Linked DNA regions of Homo sapiens: regions 2 and 3 are each linked to region 1. Evidence: fine-mapped expression QTL. A gene starts in region 1. Each other region holds a variant in brackets. All regions are shown on one strand. Distances are from middle to middle.

Region 1 (7,847 bases):
TCGTCAAGGCAGGGAAAGGTGGAGCTAGAAAAGCCAGGCTCCAGCAGCCTTGTGCAAGCTGCACATGTTTCAGAGGCAAAAGGGATGGTCGACACAAACCACGTGTGGGAAACACCTGTGTTTGAAGTTGGGAAGCCTGAAAAGTCGAAGGAGGAAAGGAAAAACGATCAATCTGGGCAAAATTTAGGGGATGATGAAAGCCTTATAAATAGCAAAACCTGATTTGGAAAATCAACTTGTGACAGAGAGAGGAAGAGCCAGCAAGACAGAATCTGTTTTAAAATAAACGTTCCGATCACACATTCACATCCAGAAACTGAGAAGCACAGTTGCCATCTGCTTTCAGACACCTCTCCAAAACAGCTACCGCACATAACCAACAGCATTTCAAAAATCCAAACGCTAGACATTCTTCCTGAAAACAGAAGTGTCTTACCATACAATGTTTTTAAGTTCTAAAAAAAAAAAAATCTTAAAATTATTTCAGGCTAACCCTCACCCAGCACATTTTGTTCCCCTTTTCATTTTCAGTTTCCTTTTGAAAATCACTTTACCAGTGGAAGACTCTGCCCCTGGAGCAGTTTTAAAATTCTAGTTACTATTTTGGCTTATATTCTAAGGTAGAAGTTTTAAGATGAGGTAATTCAAATTTTGCTCAATCTTTGCCCTCAAACGGATCTTTGCTTCCTCCTGCTTCTTTTGGGTCCAGAGAGGTGCCAACAAGTGATGATTACAAGTTACATGTCTTCATTATACACCCTAAAGAGGGCATCAAGAGGTTTTCAGCAGTAATGATGGTTTAAATGATTTTTCAAAACCTCATCAATTTCCTTTTGCCAACTATTTATACCTGCATTAATGAATAAACCTAAACATTTAATGGAAAAGAAAATAGATGGGTGCGGTGGTTCACGCTTGTAATCCCAGCTCTTTGGGAGGCCGAGGAGAGTGGATCACTTGAGGTCAGGAGTTCGAGATCACCCTGGCCAATATGGTAAAAACCCATCTCTACTAAAATTACAAAAATTAGCTGGGCATGCTGGTGGGCGCCTGTAATCCCAGCTACTTGGGAGGCCGAGGCATGAGAATCACTTAAACTGGGGGAGGTGGAGGTTGCAGTGAGCCAAGATTGCACCACTGCACTCCAACCTGGGTGACAGAGCAAGACTCTAGAGAAAAGAAAAGAGAAGAACCTGTCATTCATTCTACAAATGTCTTATTGAGTTCTTTCTATGAAGAGGGAACTTCATGAGTTTGTGAAGCTGGTGGGGGAGCAGACAGCTAAGTAATTGCTATAAAGCTTCTGACAGCAGAGAAGCCCAGATATTTTAGGAGGCTTGGGAAGGACTGTCGATATCAGTTAGAAGTTAGAAGTCCCTTGCAAGCAAAGCATGCTAGACATGCTCATTCATATCACCTAGTTCCTTTTTGAAACAAAATCCTGGTCAAAATGGTTAGCCCATGATTCTAGAAATCTCTTGAGTGCTATTTGCATCCCTTACTAGCATTGGCTTTTGCCTATAAAATGTGTTTAATGGGTTTGGGGGCATCCAAATATCTTGGAGCTGCAGGCCAGAGAAATATGTTGTTCTCAATCCCAGATGAGCCCAAAAAGGGTGGAGGAGAGAAATGCTCCATGAGTCTGAAACCACAGGTAAGTTAGGGTTGTCCATTCCCCATCCAGTCACTCTACCACCATGCACGGGGTATCTCCCTGTACAGTTATGGGAATGAGGGCACAGCAATAAGCAAGACAGATCAGTCTCTGACCCCAAGAGCTCCAGTGGAGACCACAAGATAATTAAGGAGAAATTAAACAGATAAAGAAGGAGTACAGAATGGGGACTGCAGGGAGGCTGCAGAGTGAGGGATGTGAGAGGGAGCGTGGGTTTTCAGAGGGTGACCAGGGAAGACTTTCTGAGGCTGTGTGAAGAGTCAGGAGGCAGCAGTGCAGGGGACCAGTGCTGGACAGCAAGCTCAGCCAGTGTGGCCTGGGGCAATGGCCTGGTGGTCCGAGACAGCAGAGGCTGGATCAGCTGGGGGTGTGAGGAGAAGGAGGTCTCCTGGATTGCGTGCCAGTTGCAAGGAGAAGCTACTGAAGGACTCCATAAAGAGGACTGATATGGTCTGATTTACCCATTTAAACACACAGACACACACAGACGCACGCTGCTATATAGAGAATGGAGGAAGGGGGAACTGAAATCCTACAGTAAAGAGATGCTGGTACCCTGGACAAGGGGCAGGGTGGGGGGTGGGGGCATAAGAAAAAGGGGACAGATCAGGACACATTTTAGACATAGATTCAACAGACTGAATGTTTTTTATCTGAGGATCCGAGTTGACTGCGAGGTCACTGCCAGAGACATCGACTTTTGGGAGAGGGAAAGGTTTGGCTGACCGCAAAACCTCCTTTAGGAACAAATTAGGTGTGAGGTTAGTTTGTTATATTATTTTCTCTTTCAGGACATAGGCAAAGATGAAGAGAATCAAATCATAAAAGGCGTTTAATGTTAACATTTTCCAAAATTGTGCATGTTCTAGCTATCCCTTTAATGTCTGGGCATTTTGATACCCTGTGAGTGGCTGGCAAACTCTATCATTAGTGTACACGGTGAGAGGTTTGCTGAAAGCTATATGCCCCCGTTTCTCTACCTGTTGCAGGGGAAGTGTTCGTGGGAGAAAAACTTCGCGGCCTCATACTGTGAAGGGGTAGGTTGAGATGGCCACGGGGGTTCTCAGATTCTCCACCAGCGTCTCCTCGCTGACCCCGGCCTTCCTAGGCTTCCTTCCCGCGTCCCTGCCTGCCAGGAAGGTCCCCTGTAGCTTGCAGAGACCATGGTAGACAGAGCAGTTGTATCTGCGCCAGCCAGAGACCACCTGGGCAAGAAGCGTGACCCAGACATCGAGGAGGGTGAAGCCTCGCTGGGCCGCCCCGCAACCCCAGGAAGCCCCGGACCAGCGAGAGGCTCCCGGGCGGTCTCTTGCCGACACCCCGGCACGGGCTCACCCGCGCGCTCACACTCCGCCCGCTCCCCGCTAAGGGACTGGGTTCGCTCCAAAGGCAGAGGAAACCTATGGGCTCCCCGGCTCGTGTCTCCCGACTCGTGTCTCTTGCCTCCGCTTCCCAGCTTTCCCGACCCTGCCCGGACGGGGTTTCGGGGTTCCCTGCTCGGGCCCCGCGCGCTCCCCTCCCACAGGCTGGCTGGGCTCCGGGCGCGGCGGGAGGCAGCGGGGACGTGAGACCGGGGTCGCCCCACACGCCCTCCGCGCCCCTCGGGCCGCGGCCCCTGCGCAACGGCCCCCCGTGCCCGACCACGCGGCCGCCCGGAGCGCAGGGGCCCGCGGGCAGGCAGAGGCCGAGGCTCCCCGCGGGCGCCGGGCGCGGGCTCTGGGTTCCCCGGGCGGGGCCGGGAGGCAGCCAGGCCGCCGGGGGGCGCCGGCAGGAGCGGCGCTTACCTGAGGCGGCGGCGGGGCCGGGTGCGGGCGCTCCGGGACGCGGGGCCGGGCGGACACACTGGCGGGGCCGGGGCCTGGCCGTCCCACCGCCGTCTGCCCCCCGCGCCGGGGCCGGGCCCAGACGCACTTCCTCAATCCTGAGGCGGGCGGGCGGGGAGGGCGGCGCGAAGAGCGCGCAGAGCAAGGCCGCCGCCAGCTCTCCCAGGAACCGTCGCGAGGCGTCCCCTCGGCGGCCGCCTCAGTTTCCCTGGCCGTAAAACGCGGGCGATGGCGCTCGATGCCCCGGGAGACGCCGGGGTCCGCGGGCCCTTCCGGCACCGGGTCCTCCTTCAGGTTCGGGCACCCGGCTGCCTCCACGCGGGGCGAGCGCGGCGATGGGATCGGTCCGTGCTGCGCTCAGCCCCGCTTTCGCTATCCCTCTGCTCCAGGGGCAGCAAAATCAGCAGATGAGCCCCCAGCGCGCCTGCGGCCCACACACTGCGGCCGTAACAGTTAAACAGACGGGGAACATTCATGTGCGTAGAGCTCTTCACGGGGCGATACAGAAATGTGTCGTTCTAAAGCGTTAACGACCTGCAATTTGCATATCCTCCAACACATGGATTTTACTGATTCAATTATGGATGTGTGCAAAGAATCTGCTGCTCGGTGAGTCATTGTTAATTGTCGGCTTTGGGGGGAATACATAAAACGTGGAATATTGGCAATTTATCGTGTTTCGACCTTTTATAAAGGCGTCACCAGGCTGCTGAGGCTAATACAGAAACGCAGACCATAAAAAAGATCTGCGTCCACGCTGCAGGCGGGCCTCACGCTGAGCTCCCCGTGTCGACCCGGGGACAAAGCCTGCTCAGGAAGAGCAGAGGGTTCCACGCCCTGCAGGACCAGCGCCCTGGGCCCCTCTCCTGGAAAGTTATGACTCGCACGTTCCCAGGATTTAGCGCACATCTCCCCCACCCTCACTGCCATTTCACAGAACCGGGGCAGCCGCAGGGCTCCTGCAGGACCTCCCGGACGCCGCGGGGCCGTGTTCCCTTGAGCGGCTTCTTGGGTCCCTGGTTGGAGAGGGGACCACCGAGCAGCTTCGCTCTGCTCCTGGGAGGCTACTTCTGCCACTGGACGACTTTCCAAAAGGGTGAGCGCAGTTCTGCAATCCTGTTCTCACCCCTGAGGGCCTCACACCAGTTTGCAGGAGCCAGCAGTGTGATTGCCACCGACAAGTTCCCAACAATTTGCAGGGCGTGGTGTCCTCAGTGCTGAGAGAGCCCCGCGACGGCGGTGCAGCTCCTCCAGGGCGCGCAGCCCCGCCACCTGGCGCCACCGCGAGGGAGCGCAGGCCCAGGGCCCGGGCAGACGCTGGAGGGGACGCGGCAGGTGAAGATGGGGCACCTCCACTTCCCTTCTAAAGGAGCCTGGGAATAGGCTAGGAAATGTCCCCACTGTAGAAGACAGCAGGAACATCTGACACGCGGATAACCTGTGCTGAGCTCGTTATATTCCCAGCATTTAATTCTAGCCATTAGGCATGCGTTAGCCACAACTTCGCATAGGAAGGTTATTGCAGGTAAGTTAAGACTCCTTTCCACTTCTTCCTAAGGGTCGCTGACCCATGGTTCTCTAGCTTTTGCTGGTAATCCCACCCAGATTCTCAGCACCCTAGGTTGGAATGACCCCTCCTGAGGTGGGTGGGGTAGCTGGGAGGCACCTCCCTGAACTGACTTTTCTGCCTTTTTGAAGGTGCAGTGGCTGAGCGCTCCTTCAGTGTTTTCCGGTTGTCTTTCTTCAGCCCAGTACGCAGTTTCCTCAGACAGTCTTCCTTGAGCAACTTCCTAAACGCCCTTCATTATCCCCCTTCAAGCTCATGCCTAGGAGCAAGGAGCAAAGCCATTAGAAAGGCTTCATCCACCAGCAGGAGAAGCTAGGACATCCCAAAGGGTCCACTTCTAGAGAGGTGCCAACCCCCACACGCACACCAGGCACACAAATGCATGTGTGCACACGCATACCACACCCTCCAATTGTCCCCAGAATGGCTCCCTTCAGGGAGTCATGTTCCGGGACACCAAATGAGGGAAAATATCCTTCTCCTACAGTTTCCTGCTCACATTTGGATTGAGAAATGGGATGTCTCTAAATAATGTGTCTAAATTCTCTTAACATAAGTGCATATGTTACGAGAGATCTGATCCCAGCCTCCCTTTTTTGTTAAAGTGGTGGTGCTTTGCCACCCATGTCAAAATGATCTGGGCTTTCCACATCAAATGCAAGGGATGAGCTTGGAGGACATACCCCAGTACCAGCAATGATCTTGAGCCAATGGCAGCGTCAGCTCACAACGGGGTGATTGAGGCTTCTTGGTTAGAAGCTTTAGAAACTTGAGGTCAGTAAAACCCAAATTGATCCTTTCTCTAGATCCTCTAGATTTCTCTAGAGGAAAAGGTGACAAAAACAGACACTTGTGCTCACCGTCAGGGGCACAATGCTGTCCGTCAATCCTCATGCAGTCCTCCCCACCATTTCGCACACTGACACCATCACTACTTTATGATAAAAGGAGACTCAGGCAGCTTAGATAACAGCTGAAACTCAGCCAGCTATGACATGGAACCTCTGAGGCCCAGCTCCTTGCCTGGTCAACCCCCAAGCCCACAGAAATGGGTTTCACACTCAGGCAAAGCACTGGGCCCGACTGACTGAGCAAATGTAATTTTATGCTTACATTATTGATCCTGCTTTAATATCAGCCATTTCGTACAGGTCTCAGAAAGAGAAAGGCCTGCCATCGAATTCAAATGACTTTGGTCTTTAAATGAAAAAGCACAATGTTTCTCAAATATCCAATTTTATTTTATCATTCTCGCATTGTGGGATGCGATCTGCAGCTAGGATCGGAATTCCCAGGCCTATAGATTTTTAAACCACACCACAGGGGTAAACCTTAAAAGAAGTGAAACCTAACACTATATATATTTCCATTTCTAAATACAGTATATTACAGAAGTTTAAATATACCACCTCTGTGTACTTACAACTATAAAAAGATACAATAACTCTACCAATTATAAATAATGTAGCATTTCATATTAAAGACATTATCGTACAATGGAAGAATAGGAACCCTCTAACGTATCACTATCAAGGTTAGTGTCTATATCTACTTGAGATAAAATACTGAAAATTCAGTGTATGAAGCCAAATCCTGATTTAACAAGTTATTGGTAGTATAAGTGATAAGTGTTAGCTGATGAAGGGAAGGCAAATGTGGTAATTTATATCTCTGACAAGGGTGATAGGCCCATTTTATACATGGTTTTCGTTATACACACACTGGTTCTGTTACGGGCCCTCATTTTATTATTGCCCTCCCCAACTTAATTTGCAAACTTAAGCACTACTTTCCCAATTAGGAAAGTACTAGTTAGTAACCATAAAAGTATCCGTCGGATAACACATTTGTTTTTGTTTTTGAAGCTATATGGGAACACTTTCAGTTTCCCAAGTTAAAACATGAAATTGCACATCATCATTTGGATCCCCAAAGAGGAAAAGAAAAATTCACAACCTGCCAGTGAAATACTCAGGCCACTTGGATGAAGACCGAGGTCCTCCATAGAATCCAGGTGTTATTTACTAACTAATCAGAAATTAATATCAAAATAGGACTTAAAAATAACAAGGCTGTGTTATTACAGCAGTCTTTCCAGTTGTGTACGCTTTACTAATCTAAATTGGGTAACAGAACTGGAGAAAAGGAAGACTACACAGACTTATCATAAGCTGTTAGTGAACGTGATAGAAATGCGTAATTTGTTAAAGCGAATTACAGCTCTGATTTGTCAAATGAGGAGGTGAATTATCCTAGGATTTGCTATGCTGTTGTGGCGTTAGAAGATTGGATCTTTAGCAGCAAAGGTAACCTCAACAATATTTTCTGCTTAAGAAAGTGCCTTGGTTAAGGTAGACCGTGATATCGTCTTTGACTAAGCTCTCTGGGCTATTGATTCTGTCATATTCCAAAGGCAGTATTGGTTTGAAGCCGAATCTCACGGTCAATGTCAACATGCAATCCACAAAGACCCTGGCGCCCTTCCACGGTATGCACTAACCAAAACTTTCTCACTGTGAAATCCTTTTTTTAAAAACAAGAAAACAAAAAACAAAAACCAAAAAACCTTACTGTGAATCCTTTCCCAAGGAATGGTCCCACCTTCACCTCGGAAAGAGGCGTGGCTTGCTCTGTAAGCAGGTCCACCCTGAGGAGACCGCTGGTGCAAGAGCCCTGCTTGCAGAACACACAGGGGGTTTTCCCACATTCTTACTGGAGTCAGATTCGGCAAAGCATTTCAAGCAACTGCTGGACACTTCAAATACCACTCCCTGTTAACAAC
Region 2 (7,821 bases), 22 kb after region 1:
GACTGAGACTCCAGGCCACACGCTGCCTGCACTCTGCTGCCTTCAGCCAGCCTACAGCCCCTTTTCTGTAGGGAGGTCATCCTGGAGAGTGGAGGGTTCAGGCAGATGGCCTTCTGCCCTGGGAATAGCGCCCTCCTCCCATGCCTCAGTGTGTCCTGCCCCCTTTCGTGAGCCCCCGGGACCTGACAGGATTGTGTTTCTGATCAGTTTCTAAAGAAAAGAAAGCCTCCTGGGCAGGACAGGTCAGCATTCCTTTCACGGAGAGGGACCCTGTAGGCGGTTGCCATGGGACTGCCTGCTTCAGCCCCTAGACAAGCACCATGGTTTCACACACACCAGGGGGATTACCTGAGGCCCCTGTTCTGTTTTGACATCGAAGGGGTCTCCCACGGGCCGTTTCTTGGCATACTCCACGCTCCGCCTGACAAACTCAGAGTAGACCTGCTCCTCCACGAACACCCTGGAGGCTGCCGTGCAACACTGGCCTTGGTTGAAGAACACTCCCTGATGGGCACACTCCACTGCCAAGTCCACTGGAGGGGGAGGGGCGAGGGAGGCGGGCAGAGCGAGAGGAAGCGATTAAGTTGTTAAAGCAGGACTGGTGACAGCTGCAATTCTAATTGCCCACACAAGAAAACAGGCCCCAGGATGGCTGCATTTCAGAAATTAATTTTGTTTGCAGACTTTCCCAAATAGAGAGGAAGGGAGAAAGGATTTTGGGGTCCACCAAGTTTGGGGTTAAATCAATTCCCTGACTGCAGGACTTCTCAGTACCTTTAATATGCTAATAAGTCCAGAGAGTCATAGCACCCTCCATTTCACTTGCCTTTTTCTAGAGGACTCCCCTCCCCTCCCCTTTTTCTAGAGGACTAATGTTTTATAGAATAAACTTCGGTAATTATTGATGTAGGCCCCCTGGCGAGAACTTCTAAAGAAGCCAAAATGTTCCACCTTGAGTAAAAGAAGGGTCTTATTAAGTAAGATAATATCATGTGTGTGACTTAGAAGGGCTGACTAAGTTGCAGAGCTGACATTGAACTAAAACCAGTTATTCAAACCAAGCCAGAGGGTATTTAGAGAATAAGATCTTGGGGGACACGCTTAGTGGATAAGAATGGTATTGGGATGTCATTTACATCTACAGAGGGGTTTCTAGTGTTCAACCGTTGGCTGGTTTCATCACCACCAACCCCCGCACTATTGCTTTCTTAAGAAATGCAGCTTTCCTTTGCATAGAGGCTGGCAGTGGCTCTGGGCATTGGAAGGTGATCCGTTCCAATTCCACAGGGGCTGCTCCAAGGGACTGTGCCCTTGGCTTTGAGAAGGAGGCTGCTCCTATCTAGCTGAGTCATTTGTGGAAGTTTCAGTGGCAGCAGGACAGCACCATAAGGTTTGGGGGTACCTCTCTGCACCCTTGACCCCTGCAGCTGGCTGGGCCAGGTCCCAACTTGGAACTGCCCCTCCTCCGAGATAACAGACTCATTTCCTGCTCCTGACGGAGCTAGGGGTGAGGCGAAGGGGCAGGGGAATGGTGGCTTGTTACCCTTGATGTCTTGCCTGGGATGCTGGTTATGTCAGGATGTAATTTGTGGACTGGCACCGCCCTGATGAGGAGAAGGAGGTGGCTACACAGCATGTTTTTATGACCCTCGTAAGTAAAACCAAGCCCCAAACACAATTAGTCCTGTGCTTTAGCTGCAGTTTTCCTCCCCAAGAGGAGGAAGATGAACTTCAGTGCAGGTGGCGTATCCAGATACGGTGGCACAGGAAAGCAAAACAGGAGTCCTGGCTGTTTGGGACTCCAAATGTGAGTCACAGTGCCAGAAATGCTCCGTGTGGCTCCAAAAACCACTTGCTATTCATAGCACTAATGGTGCTTCCACAAGGGAACACTGACCCAGGCAAGAAATGGAAAGTCCATCTTCACACCCAGCTCCCCTTTCCTTCCTGAGAGCCTGTATCCTCCTCCTGTCCTTTCTCCCATTGTGAAAGCCAGCTGCCAGAAAGGAACTGATATCAGTCATTTACACCTTAGTAAGAAATTGTGCCAGGGTCATTTTTCTTGGGGATATTTGCAATTCCAACCTTATCTGAGTGTGAAGTGAAAGGCTTTGTTCTCCACGACAGGAATTTCTGGCACCCGTGGACAGGTCTGGGAGGCTATTCTTTAAGGCAAAGGTGTTTCAAGGCACTTGGGAAGTCACACCTTTTGATAGCTGACCCTGTCAGCAGGTGAATGAATGCCCGGCCAGCCCTTCCTTCCCTCTTGTGGACATGGCAGCCAACAATAGCATATATTTTAACGCTGTGTCGTTTGGCTGTCAAGACGCAAGCTATCCCCAAACTGCTGGGCAGGTTGCTTTCCCAGGGCAGGGGTGCAGGCCTAGAACCAGGCAAAGCGGGTAATTTGAAGGATCAGTTGCTACTGCCCTCCTCTGATTTATCAGGTCTGAGACACAAGGAAAGAGCACCTCCACTCTTCAGGGATCTTAAAACATATGATAGGAAATGTGACTTGGAGGGGAGAATGAATGACTGGGAGTGGGCAGCACCTGCCCTCCCCACTCCTCCCAGGGGGCTCTGGAGGAGAAGCCAGACCTGCTCCTCGTGACCCCAGCTCTGCAGGAACAGGCAGGTAAACTTAACGCTAAGGCGCAGAAACAGGCAGCCTCTCAGGTGCCACTCAAGCCATATCGTTTTGGCAGTAGAAGGCAGCTTTCTGCTAGAAGTAAAGCTGGCATTTTGATGTCCACCTGCCTGTCTGCGGCTGGCTGACTGTGGGCAGGATGCCCACGGTGGAAGCGTCCCCACTGTGTGTGCACACATCTTACTCTCAGTTGGTTTTGAATTCAGGCCAGGAAGTAGGGGGAGACAGATGGATGCCCTGAAGCCCCAGCAAAGCCCAGGAGGGCAGAGACTCACAGTCAGCGTCCGCACACACGATGCAGGGGTTCTTCCCCCCCAGCTCCAGCGTCACCCGCTTCAGATTGCTCCGGGACGCAGCTTCTTTAACCAGTTTTCCAACCTCCAGGACAGAACACAGATCACAATTTACCTTGGATGTTGCTGAACTTGGCCCAGGCGTAAACATCAGTGAACATTCTGATCAAGCCCGGGTGGCAGTGCCACCACCTGGCTCTCGGCCCAGGCGCTCCAGGCCCCGATGCCGTCCCTTCACTGTCCTGGCCTCTGCCAGCATCTCCTCCCATGCCAGACCATGACATCCTGGGATCCTTGGTCTAAGCCGCTCCACTTACAGGTGTGAGTTAGAGCCTCTGGAAGCCCACACAGCTGGCTGGGAACAGGGCTGCCACCCGCTAACCTGTCCTGGTGCCTGTCCTTCTGAGCCCAGCAGGCTGGTCCAGCCAGTCTGGTAAAGGGCTTCAGGGACCGCAGGGTGACTCTTCTACCTCTCACTAGAAACAGCTGAAATTCCAACAGCCCAGTAGGGGGGTGGTTCTGTGTGGCTCTTTGGTGTGATCTGAGGGAACCTCCAAGTGTTAGAGAAGTAGCGAGGGCAGCCAGCCTTCCGGATGAGAAGGAGCCGATTCTCTGGAAACACACTCTAAGACTGAGGCTGCCGCAGACAGGCAGGGAGTGAAGGGGTGCGCTATGAGCAGAAAAGCCACTCACCAGTCATGCTCAAGGCCCCCACGGGGTCTCTCCCATTGCCCACTGTACCCCTGGAGGGGAGGGCTGGCCCAGCATGACTCGGTGACTTATCTAGGGCAACAAGTAAAGCCCAGCACCACGAACTTCAGAGCTGGGAAGATCCTCAGAGACCAGTGCAGACACGGAGGCCTAGAGCCAGAAGCTAGCAAGGCGCGGCCCAGGCTCTTCCGGGTCTGAGACTGTTTTCTCCAATGCTAAGGTGTGAGCGCATTTTAAACATCAGCAAGCTCATGGGTGATGGCTGAATGAGGTCTGGAATCCATCCACAGGGCAGTGTCTGTCTCCAAGGAGAGTAACAGCATCCACCAGGGCTTGGACTAACTAAGGAGGGGGATGGGGACACTGATTGCAGCGGGTGTTTTTTTCTTTTTTAAGTACAGAAGAAATACTTTCTCATTAAAAGTAATTCCACATAGAGATGTATGTGAATTACAGGGAGAAAGCCTTCAGCTTCCCTCCGGCTCTGCCCCGAGCCCACCCCATAGGTGGCCATCAGTAAGGATTTCTTGGGAATCCTTCCAGATAATTTCTACTTCTACAAGCACACACCTCTACGAATGGGAAAATATTGTGGGTAATTTTCTACCGTTTGCTGTTTTGTGCTTCAACAATAGATCATGGACAGCTTTCCTTGTTGTAACGGCTGTAAAACATTCCAGAGAATGAATATAATATCCTTGAAAATATGTCCCTGAAGCCTCATGAGAAAATTTCTCTAAGTAGTTTTTTCTTTTTTTGAAATGGAGCTTCTGAATCGAAAAGTTTTTCACTTTAAATGTTGGATGAGTGCTACCAAAACACTGTGCATCTTAGGGCAAGTGTCGCTGAGCACCTGCTTCCCCATATTCTCAGCAGTATCATTTCAGTTCTTAGCAATCTGGCAGGCAAAAGGAAAGTCTGATTTTGTTTGAATTTGCATTTTCCTGATTACCAGCAAACTAGTTTAAGCTTAATGGGCACGTCGTATTTCTATTCTCTGAACTGCCCATTTTTCTACCATTCAGTTTGGTTTTTTTTTTTCATTGACTTGTAGGAGCACTTTGCATATGACGGATATAAATTCTTGGAGCACTGCATGCATCACGACTATTTTTCTCTGAGCTTGTTATTTATCTCTTAATCTTAATTATGGTGTTTGACAGATGAATATTTTACATTTCTACTTTATCTTATCTCTCAATCTTTTCTTCTAAGGCTTCTGAGTTCTATTAGATATTTATTTAGTTTGGAAACTAGACCAGTGACTTTTTTTAACTGGTTGTTATGTACTAAAACATGGTCAAATTTAGAAGAAAAACAAATCATATTAAAGCCTGTCAAAGGAAAAGCTCACGGGTGTCAAATAACACGCCCCTTTCACTTTCCCCAGCACCCTGTGAGGAGGGTTACCTCTGTGGAGCCGGTGAAGGCGATCTTGTTGATCTGAGGGTGAGAAGAAATTGCTGCTCCCACTGTGGGCCCGAATCCTGGCACAATGTTCACCACTCCTGGAGGGAACCCGGCCTGGGAAGAAATCAAGATAGCACTTGAAGAAGAACGGACTTCATCCACCACGGATCCACATTTGGGCCGAGAGAGCCGTGGCTGCCTCACATCCCCACAGGGAACCCGGGCCGGGCTGGATTTACCCAGGACCCAGAAGCAGTTGACCGTGGGCACCCTGGGAGCTGACCTGGGCTTCTCATCCCCTGCTGCCAGCCCAGTGTGCAGGCTGGGCAAGGGGAGATGCCCACTTCTCCTTCTGGGGGGGGACCCCATCCCAAAGTGATATGCAGTGCAAATGTGTGGTTATGCTTCAAGGTGGCCATGGCCCGCCTGTAGCACAGCACCTTTCCATGTGGGGTGTGTGTGTGTGTGAGGGAGAGTGTGTGTATGCGTTAAGGGGAGAGGGGTACCTTGATCAGAATGCCCTGCCCAGGATCAGAGGCACCTGCAAAATATCTGCCAAGAGCTTCAGTTTTGTTTTTTCTTCTTTTTTTTTTTTTTGAGATGGAGTCTTGCTCTGTCGCCCTGGCTA[G/A]AGTGTAGTGGCGCGATCTTGGCTCACTGTAAGCTCCGCCTCCCAGGTTCACGCCATTCTCCTGTCTCAGCCTCCTGAGTAGCTGGGACTACAGGTGCCCGCCACCACGCCTGGCTAATTTTTTTTTTTTTAAGTAGAGATGGGGTTTCACTGTGTTAGCCAGGATGGTCTCGATCTCCTGACCTCGTGATCCACCCACCTCGGCTTCCCAAAGTCCTGGGATTACAGGCGTGAGCCCAGTTTTCATTTTTTAATCAGACCCGTTATTATTCCAAATGGTGACAGGGTATCACTCCCTTAAAGTTCTTTGCTTGTTCAACCTGGGTCTCACCTGGAGCAAGCCCTTCTGGAAGGCAGGGACTGCCACCTCGTTCACGTTCATGCCTCGTGTTTTTCATATACTAAGCCTCTTTATCAGGCGAGAACACAAAACAAACGAGGTGGAGGATGCTCTTCCCCACCTGTGCTGAGTCTTACTTAGAACACATTATTTCAGAAAATCAAGATTTTAGGCACGCTGCTTGAGTCTTTAGATTTTTAGGCACTGTTTCTTAACAGTTGGGATTTTCACATTCCTAAGTCTCACCAGTGTGACTTAATTATGCCCCACATCACCAAAGGAAAGTGGAAAATTGGCTCATCACCAGCTGTTCCCACCTTGCTTCTAAGCAACTGTGGACCTGCCTGCCGGTCATATCAGCCCGACTAAGAAGAGAAAGGAATGGATCTTTTCTTCTGTCCCTCTTTGCTTCCTGTTGCTTTCTCTAAATCTTTGCTCCATACAACCTGGGGATGGAATGACTAAAGGTATGTCTGGAAGGAGGTGTCCCATTGAGCCTCTGTTTCCCTAAGTTCTGGCTGCCTGAGGGAGAAGAGATTGCATTCAGAGCAGAGGGCACTGATTAGCAGGGACCCGGCACACGGACTGCTGCAGCCGCCCAGCTAGAGCTGACGAGGCCACCTCTCCAGAGAAAAATGGACCATTTCATAAACTGAGAATGCAAATCCCAGAGAACCTCCCAAATATTTGGCTCCCTCTTGGTTGACCCCCCCTGAAAATTCTCTAGACAAACCACTGGGTCCTCAACCATAGGTTTGAGCCCATAATAAGAGTTAAGCATTCTCATTAGGACCACTGGGAGGAATGGAGTTTCTCCAGCTCAGTGGCCACAAGCAGGAGAAAGAACGTGCAGTCGCCAAACAAAACACTGGAAGTCATTCCCTTCCCACTCGATTGCCAGCAGTCTGCCACTGTCCCATCTCGTGACGGTGGCCTGGTTCCTAGGAGTGGGAATGTTACCAAGAACATGTGATATTTTCTTTTTGGATGTCTCACCTCTTTGATCAGAGAGCCGAGATAAAGGGCGGTGAGAGGTGTCTGCTCCGCAGGCTTCAGGACCATGGTGTTCCCACAGCAGAGGGCGGGTGCCAGCTTCCACACCAGCATCAGCAGGGGGAAGTTCCACTGCGACAGAGCACAGGGGCTTTGGAGGCCCAGATCCACCCTCTTACCCTGTCCCATGTGCTCAACGATGCCTTTGTGGAGGACACTTGCTTTTCATGGTCTGGATTTGGGGTATGTGGGGTAACATAGGAGTGTGCAATGATCAGAACTGCAATCCTGCACAGCACTTCCTAAACTGCATTCTGGGTGGTACTAATAGGCAGCCTTTGCAAAGAGGATGCTGTTGCATGTGTTCTACCTCTCCCTCTAAAACATCTGCTGAAGACGTGTCCTCCTCCCTGCCTCCATGGGCACTTTTTGAACCCTCACTTCATGTTGCCACCTGGCTCTTCAGCTTCCTGCCTGGCTGTTGTTGCAATGGCCAGAGGCTTCCCAAACAGACAGGCAGCATTGTTGCACTTCTTGGGCACCTATAAGCATCCCCACCGCCCAATGAATAAAGTCCCGGCCCCTTAGCAGCCAAAGCTGCTGGAAGCTGGCCCACACCACCTGCCACGTGTGCTCACCCTTTTCCTCACTTTTGCTCCTGCCTGAGCTCTAGCCCCACCAGCTTTCCTGCTGTTCCCTTCCAAGTAGCCCAGCCACCTCTGCACTTTTGCCTAGGCCATTCCCACTCCTTGGAAAATCCTTTTCCTTGTTGAACAAGTCTTTCTTATCTTTAAGGCCC
Region 3 (7,847 bases), 69 kb before region 1:
AGGTTGAGTCAACATCTATCAAAATCATTTATTAAATCAATAAAGTAGAAAAGCTATATGAATACACTAATTGCTGCAAAAAGGGATTTGAAAAAGTTCAGTAATGTTTCCTAATAAAAACTCAAAGCAAAAATGAATACATGGAAACTACCTAAATATAACAAGAACCTATTTGCTAACTGTCCAGAGCAAATGCTTATAAATTGGTGACACCAAGACATTTAAAATCAGGAACAAGATAGATATAACTGCTAGAGTCATGATTATTCAGTTTTTGAGATTTCTAAAGATACACAATAAGACATGGAATAATAAGTTGTATAAATATTAGAAAAAAGAGATAAACTTGTTTTGAATTTGTAGAATATGTGATCATATATCCAAAAGTATTGAGGAATTCTAGTAAAAACTACATTAGAGTGAATAAGAGAAGATGGGAAAGGAACTGGATAAAACAGAAATAAACAAAATAACTTTTCTCCATACCAGTAACATCAGGTTGGAATAGAAATGGAAAAGAGTTATATAAATATATAGATAGTTCATTAAAATGGTAGCAAAAACAATATAAAAGTCACTAACAGACAAGACAGGTCCAGGAGTTTTAGGAAGAAAAGAAAAAAATCTCATTAAAGAACATAAAAGCTACACAAATAGAGTCACTGTGGGAAATGAGCAAAATAGAAGAACAAATGTCCGATAATAGTCCAGTCAAGATATCTTTGAAAAAAACTAATGAACAGAAAACTTGCATTAACAGATTGTAAAACTTAAATGCAGTGCCTATAATCGAAACAATATGACATTTGCCAGAAACAGATTAATAGGCCAGTGAACCAGTACTGAGAATCCCAAAATGTATACAGATATAGGTACTGGGGAAAATGCCAATGGTGACATCTCAATTCAGATGAGAAAGAAAACTTCATTTTAAAAACTGTGCTAGAGTAGCTGGCTATCTGGAAGAGATAAAAGCTAGCCACCTCCACCCTCTGCCACTTCCCTCATACAATACACACAAATAAATACCAGAAAGGTTAAAGCTTAAAATGTAAAAACTAAATGAATGAAAACATTACAAGGAACTCCAGGAGAATACTGAAATAAAATTAGAGGGAAAGTGGCCTTCTTGTATAACCACATACCAGAAAGGAGAAGATGAACATATTGAATTATGTATTATTTTACCTTTGCTATCACAAAAGATAACAAAAAAAGAAAAATAATGGATTGGGAAAAATATTGGCAACATTTATGATAAAGTCTTAAAAATCTCTAATGTTCAAAAAAAAAAAAACCCTCCAAAGTGAGAAAAAAAGACAAACAATCCTTTAGAAAAAATAATCAACAAACATTAACAGGCAGTTCACATAAAGGGAATGCAAATAGTTCATGAACATATGAAAAGATATCCAGTATTATTACTAATATAACATGGAAATTAAAATAAGCAGAAATTATTTTTGCCTCACACTGATGAAAATTAATAGGCTCCAGGATGCCTACTGCTTGCTGGCTGAGGGGTGGAGACAGAGAATCCCACCTATTGCTGGTGAAAATGTGAATCACCAGAGTGTTGGGGGGCAGTGTTTCCAAAGCAGCCCACTTTTAGGACTGTGCTCTACATAAGCAAACATACCATAGCAAATCAGGCTATATTGCAACAGGAAAAAAAAAAGAACTATTTCAAATGTCCACCAATAGCAGGAGAGCTATGTCAACTAAGTGACACTGGCTCTATGTATTTAAAGAACGTCCCTAAAAGAATGAGTTGAAGCCACAATAACTGATCTAGAGGAAGTCCATGATAGAATACTAAATTTAAAAAGCCAAGTTGAAGACAATGTAAATAACGCAATAATATTTTTGTTATTAAAATGGGAAATTAAAACTAAACCCTGTATAGTTTTGTAAATGTTTTTATAGCATTGCATGTGGAAGGATGTGAAAAGATCCCTACCAGGTTGTTAAACTATTTACTTCAAGGGCAGAAGATTCATAATTTTGATTACCACTCTCAATTGTGATCACTTGTTATAACAATCATTCATAACTTTAGTAATTTTAAAATTTAACACATAAAAATTTAAAAAAGAAATATGTTAAATATGATATATTTAACCAATTTTTGAAAAAAGGAAAAGAGAAAAAAAACAACCAAAAAAAACCAGAAACAAAAACAAAAACTCTGGGAGGGGGATGAAGCCCAGATTTCAGCTCCCACCCTGCTATAGCTTGAATGTCCCCTTCAAAACTCATGATGAAATGTAATTGCTGTTGTGATAAGGATGGGACCATTAAGAGGTGATTAGGCCAAGAAGGCCCCACCCTCATAAATGGATTGATGTTGTTATTGTGGAAGTGGGTTTGTTATTTTGAGGGTGGGTTGTTATAAAAGTGAGTTCTTCCCTCTCTCAGTCTGTTGGTCTCTTGCCCTCCACCTTCATATCACTGCATGAAGGCCCTCACCAGATACCAGCACTATGCTCTTGGACTTCTCAATCTCCAGACCTGTAAGCCAAATATATTTCTGTTTATTATAAATTACCCAGTCTGCAGGATTCTGTTACAGCAGCACAAAAGGAACTAAAACACACTCCACAGGCAGTGACTACTCACTGTTTTTCCCGGATAACTGCTGGGCAAGGGACTGGCTTCAATGAAGTACTTTCTCAGCAGATGTTTGCTGGGGTCAGGACTATCCAGCAAGATGTAGGAACAGAAATAGGCCCCATGCCGAAGCAGGAATATTGCAATGTCTTCATTCCCTAAAGGAACAAAACCAAAAAGCTAAGGGCATGCAGATGCTAGTGTCACAGTCGTTGGAAGGGCAGACTCTGATATGTGGAATGGAAACTGAAAAGGTACTTGTGCATGTTGGACTTCTCTATTTACTTCCCTTGGTGCATCAAGTTTCTGTTAGTGGGAGAATTTCTGTGGGGCTTTGCCCTTTGGAGTGCCTCGTACAACAGTCCCATTAGCCACAGTCAGTCTCTGTCACTGAAATCCCCTTGCGGGGGCAAGTAAGGAGGAAATGAGGAAGGGTGCAGATATTTTGAAAAAGAAACATAGAACAGGAGTTGCAAAAGTCTCCTCACAGAGGTGATTTGAGAGCCAAGAGTGAGAATAAAGACACAGTCCCACATCTGGAGGCTGAGATGGTTTGCACGGTCAGGGTTGACTCAGGGTAGTGGGGAAACCCACCTGACTTGATGGCCGCATACAGGGGCAAGCGCACGATGACAGGGAACTCATTCTTCCTGACAGCGTAGCTCTCCGGGTCAGCCCCGTGCGTCAGGACCAGGAGCTTCACAACCCCCAGGTGCCCTCGCTGGCAAGCCAAGGCCAGCATCCAGTTCAGAAGCCGCTGGGGACTGCAGGGACCTGGCAGGAGATGGCAGGACAAAGGGAAAGTGCCACTGAAGGGTGCTGTTTGTTCCCACTCTGCTCTTCCCTTAGACCGCTAGTAGCAATGGACTGGTTAAATAAAATGTGGTACATTTGCACCATGGAATACTATACAGCCATAAAAAAGAATGAGATCATGTACTTTGCAGCATCATGGATGGAGCTGGAGGTCATTATCCTAAGTGAACTAACGCAACAACAGAAAACCAAATACTGCATGTTATCACTTATAAGGGGGAGCTAAACATTGAATGCACGTGGACACAAAGAAGGGAACAATAGACACTGGGGACTACTTGATGGTGGAGGGAGGGAAAAGGGGGAAGGTTAAAAAATTACCTATTGAGTCCCATGCTTATTACCCAGGTGACGAAATAATCTGCAT[A/G]CCGAACCCCGGCAACATGCAGTTTACCCACGTAACAAACCTGCATATGTACCCCTGAACCTAAAGTAAAAGTTAAACAAAACAAAACAAAACCCAGCTGTCCTGTTTCCAGCTGAAAGTTGCTTCTGTTGAGTTGATAGTGTTTTCTGGAATAGTCTCTCTGAATTGCATATGACATTTCCCCACATCAGTCACCCACCTGCTTGTCAGATAATGCCGAGTGATGAAATGGAGGATTAAAAATGGCGTATCCAGCATGATCTTAGCCAAATAAAAAATGGGTGTGTGGAAATAAGACTAGAAACAACTACCCCAGCATTGTGGTATTTTCTCTGGGCTCTCCCCTGCCCTCACCCCTCCCCTAGGGTAACATTACATGCAGGAGTATGAACTTTGGAGACAGGCATTTTAGAAATAAAATAATTTAGTATGTAATTTTGGACACATTTCTTAATCTCTCTCTGTTTCAGTTTGCCTGTTGGTAAAATCGGAATAATAATACTCATTCTTCCAAGTTTAATGTGAGGACTACATCACAAAATGCATGTCAAGTGCCTGGATCAATAAACCCTAACTCATGATGTTGTGTCATTGTATTATTAAAGTACTGACACTTTCCCACATTTTAAAATTATCTATAATATACATATATTACTTTCATGAATAATAATAATAAAAGCTTTGGTGAAAGATCTGTCAGGCCTAAAAGTGACAATTTCTCCCCAGTAGAACCACCTACTTAATTCCAGGATGAAATAACACTTAGCACATTGAATTGACGGGGGCAGTGTGGGCTGAAATGTTACAATATCTTCAAGTTCAAAATAGTGCAATATCTTTTGGGTCTAGTTGCCATGGAAAAATGACCTCATCTTCTGCAGGGACACTTCCCAAATGCATCATAACACTGCCTCATTTCCAGAGGCACATAGTCCTAGGGATCAAAGTGCTCCCAAGTGAGGAGAGAGTGACTCTCTCCTTCGCGACAGGACATTGATCAGGAAACCGGGGTCAGGATGGCCCTGTATTCACCAAATAAAGCATGTAGCATAGGGCTGAGGCTGGAGCCAGTGCCAAGTAAATATCCCTTCTTCTCCCTCTACTGTTAACCAGAATTAATGATTTGTAGGTATGTTAACAGAAAATAAGTGACCCCTAATCCACTTACACAAGAATATCTGGGTAAGAGAAACACAGTAACCATGCTAGTAACTTCTGTTGAGATGGGGATGTGTCAGTCTTTGGAGGCAGGCATTATATTTCAGGACCATGATTTTAAGATGAGGAAACCAAAGCTCAGAGAGGTTTGGAAATGTAGGAGATTGGTCAGAGTCGTAGGAAAAACTACAGGGAAAGGACACAAACCTTCTGAAAGTTTGGAAGCTTCTGCAGAGCCCTGGGGGAGAACAGCTGAAGGCAGAGGGCAAGGAGTGTAGGGGAATGTATCTTAAACAGGCTTGTTTACTTATGTTGACCAGGAACTGACCTTTGATCATCTGCTGGCTTGATGTTCCCTGAAAGGGGAACAATAAATGTTAATTACCTACAGGTTGTGTTGGCTCCAGGTTTTCGGCATTGTGCCTGCACTGAATGAAAGCAAGCAGCTCTAGCTTCTTCGGGCTGCTCTCTGGCCAACAGAGCCAGGCAGTGACTCAGCTGCTCTTACACCGTACACCTGTGTCTGAGTACTCATTTCATCCATCAGCCAGGGTCTGTGGGACACACCTGGCAGGGAAACTTCTTGAAGGTCCCACAGTTAGTAAATAGCAAGGTCAAGACTTAAACCTTGCTTTGTCTAAAATCAAAGGGTGCTCTCTTAACCACACAAAACCCCTACAGGTACTCTCTACAGCCTAAGGCCAACGACACTCAGAGGAGCCCCTCTTCCTCCCTGCTCAGCTTCAGAGACCAGGAATCACATAACAACGTGCTTCAAAGAATGCATCCCATCAACCTCTCATCCCTCTTCTTCTCAAACCCTCCTTTGTTCTCTAGCTGCTTCTTGTTTTTGTTTTTTGTTTGAGACAGGGTCTCCTTCTATCTCAGCCTGGAGTGCAGTAATGTGATCATAGCTGACTGCAGCCTTGGACTCCTGGGCTTAAGCCATTCTCCCACTTCACCCTCCCAAGTACCTGGGAATATAGGCATGTGCCACCATGCCTGGTTAATTTAAATTTTTTTTTTTTTTTGTAGATACAGGGTCTCACTATGTTACCCAGGCTGGTCATGAAATCCTGGGCTCAAGTGATCCTCTTGCCTTGGCCTCCCAAATTGTTGGGATTACAGGCATGAGCCAGCATGTCCAGCCTGACTCTTGTTTGTCTTCTTGTCTTGACTTACTCCTGACCATGGCTGACTTCCCTTCCAGCTTGGGAACTCCTTTGCAGGAAGTGCAGGGATGGGTACACACTGTTTTGCCCATCTCTGCACTTTCTGCAAAGCCCACCACAATGGTCTGAAATCCTTCAGTCCTCAGCAGCTTTGCTCAGAGTTGAGCTGAAGATACGATGCTCCTGGGAGCAGTTGAAAACCATGACGAGGTTCAGCCACACTTCCTGCTCTGCAAAAGCAGGCAACCCAAGTCCTTCCTTCACTTGTCTGCCAAGTAAACTCCTATTCACTCTGCAAAGCCCAGGTCAGATGTCAGCCTCCCTTCGGAGACCCTACCCTGCCCCCTGATGTGTGCTCCCAGACCTCTGCGTAAAAATACTTCAACCTCAGTGTAGTTACATTGCACAGTGTTACTCCTTTCTGCCTCAATTTCCCCTGCTTGGCCAGGAGGTACTAAATGGCTGGGAAAATCTTTAAAAAAATTATCTGTCTCTCACGTTCTACACAGTTTTCAGCACTTGACAGTATTCAATAAATATTAGCTAACATTAGGTGACGGAGTCAGCTGGTGCAGACTCTTCAGGGCTAGAACAGAGCTAATCTTGGGGCTCCCCGAGAAGAGGCAGGTCAGCCTTTGGCTCCTCAGGAGCACCCAAGCTCCTCTCTGCCCTCCTATGTCTTGTCTTAGTATGCTTCTCATGGGCCCTAAAATTGCCCTGATTTCTGCCCATAACCTCATTCTGTTCAGACACATGAGGGGAACACTAGCTTGGAACCAACGCTGAGCACAGATCTATCAAAGCCCACAGCTGGAAACCCTCAAACAAGACCACTATATAAGGGGTGAGGCCCAATGCAAAATGAAAAGAATGGGGCTTCTTGTTTAAAAATCATGAAACATTTTAAGATAGTGAGTACAGAGTATTAAACGTAACGTGGGCCCTTCTAGGTGCAGGGCCCTGGGTGACTGCATGTTCTCCCACCCAAGAGGTGGGCCCTGGCTCCCAAGCAAAATCTCAAATCCCAAAGACCATGGCTAGGGTGTGCCTCACCCTATAGCTGTAGCGATGCCTGCCTAGACTGGTGCAGTGTTTCTGAGCCAAGACCACCACGGGAAATTACAGGAGACCAGGACATCTTGAGTTCACCAGAGAAAAAAATAGTTCCTACAAAAGCAACATAGTGTGGTACACCAATACAATGGAATATTATTCAGCCATTAAAAGAAATGAGCTATCAAGTCACAAAAAGGCATGGAGAAACCTTAAATGCATATCGCTATGGGAAAGAAGTGAGTTTGAAACGGCTACAGACTGTGGGATTCCAACTAGAGCGATGTTCTGGAAAAGGCAAAGATAGTAAAAAAGATCAGTAGTTGCCAGGGGCCAGGGGAGGGAGGGAGGGAGGGAGGGATGGGGCCAGGGGAGGGGTGGAGCACAGAGGATTTTTAGGGCAGTGAAACTGCTCTATGTAATACTGTCATGATGGACACGTGTCATTATCCATTTGTCAAAACCGATGGGATATACAACAGCAAGAATGAATTGCAACGTAAGCGATGGACTTTAGTTAGTAAGAAGGTATCAATATTAGTTGATCAGTTGTCACAAATGTCCCACACTAACACAAAACAGAGTTATAGGGAAAACCATGTGGAGGGCGCACAGTGGAGGGTCACCTCTCTGAGCTTTGTTTTCGTCATCTTAAAACCATGGTTCTGAAA

Alleles and levels. Positions count from the first base shown, and alleles are read on the strand shown. Sizes are in standard deviations (SD) of each study's normalised expression.
In carriers of allele A in region 2, the expression in prefrontal cortex of the gene that starts at base 3,628 in region 1 tends to be higher than with G alone (large effect, 1.2 SD a copy in GTEx).
As copies of G replace A in region 3, the expression in caudate of the gene that starts at base 3,628 in region 1 goes down (moderate effect, 0.45 SD a copy in GTEx).

What was found.
Region 2: its variant is fine-mapped to the expression of ALDH1A3-AS1 in prefrontal cortex (GTEx, PIP above 0.99). The same link has a PIP of 0.9 or more in anterior cingulate cortex.
Region 3: its variant is fine-mapped to the expression of ALDH1A3-AS1 in caudate (GTEx, PIP above 0.99).

What each region holds. Positions count from the first base shown.
Region 1 is chr15:100,915,064-100,922,910 of GRCh38, reverse strand. It overlaps ALDH1A3-AS1 (ALDH1A3 antisense RNA 1), which reads left to right and starts at 3,628. Exons shown (of 2, transcript NR_135827.1): 1 at 3,628-4,107. It overlaps ALDH1A3 (aldehyde dehydrogenase 1 family member A3), which reads right to left. Exons shown (of 13, transcript NM_000693.4): 13 at 6,285-7,847. LRRK1 (leucine rich repeat kinase 1) reads right to left here and starts at 3,554. Exons shown (of 34, transcript NM_024652.6): 1 at 3,460-3,554. RefSeq lists enhancers at 1,926-1,985, 2,512-3,103, 4,278-4,397, 4,448-4,537, 4,290-4,882 and silencers at 3,318-3,907, 4,668-4,887.
Region 2 is chr15:100,893,287-100,901,107 of GRCh38, reverse strand. ALDH1A3 (aldehyde dehydrogenase 1 family member A3) reads right to left here. Exons shown (of 13, transcript NM_000693.4): 6 at 7,026-7,154; 7 at 5,062-5,175; 8 at 2,923-3,025; 9 at 349-533. It overlaps ALDH1A3-AS1 (ALDH1A3 antisense RNA 1), which reads left to right. Exons shown (of 2, transcript NR_135827.1): 2 at 5,042-7,821. Among named protein-coding and RNA genes, the nearest start is that of ALDH1A3, 17 kb to the right of the region's middle. The variant G/A (reference allele first, on the strand shown) is at 5,690.
Region 3 is chr15:100,984,171-100,992,017 of GRCh38, reverse strand. LRRK1 (leucine rich repeat kinase 1) reads right to left here. Exons shown (of 34, transcript NM_024652.6): 5 at 3,205-3,384; 6 at 2,620-2,768. Among named protein-coding and RNA genes, the nearest start is that of LRRK1, 69 kb to the right of the region's middle. The variant A/G (reference allele first, on the strand shown) is at 3,794.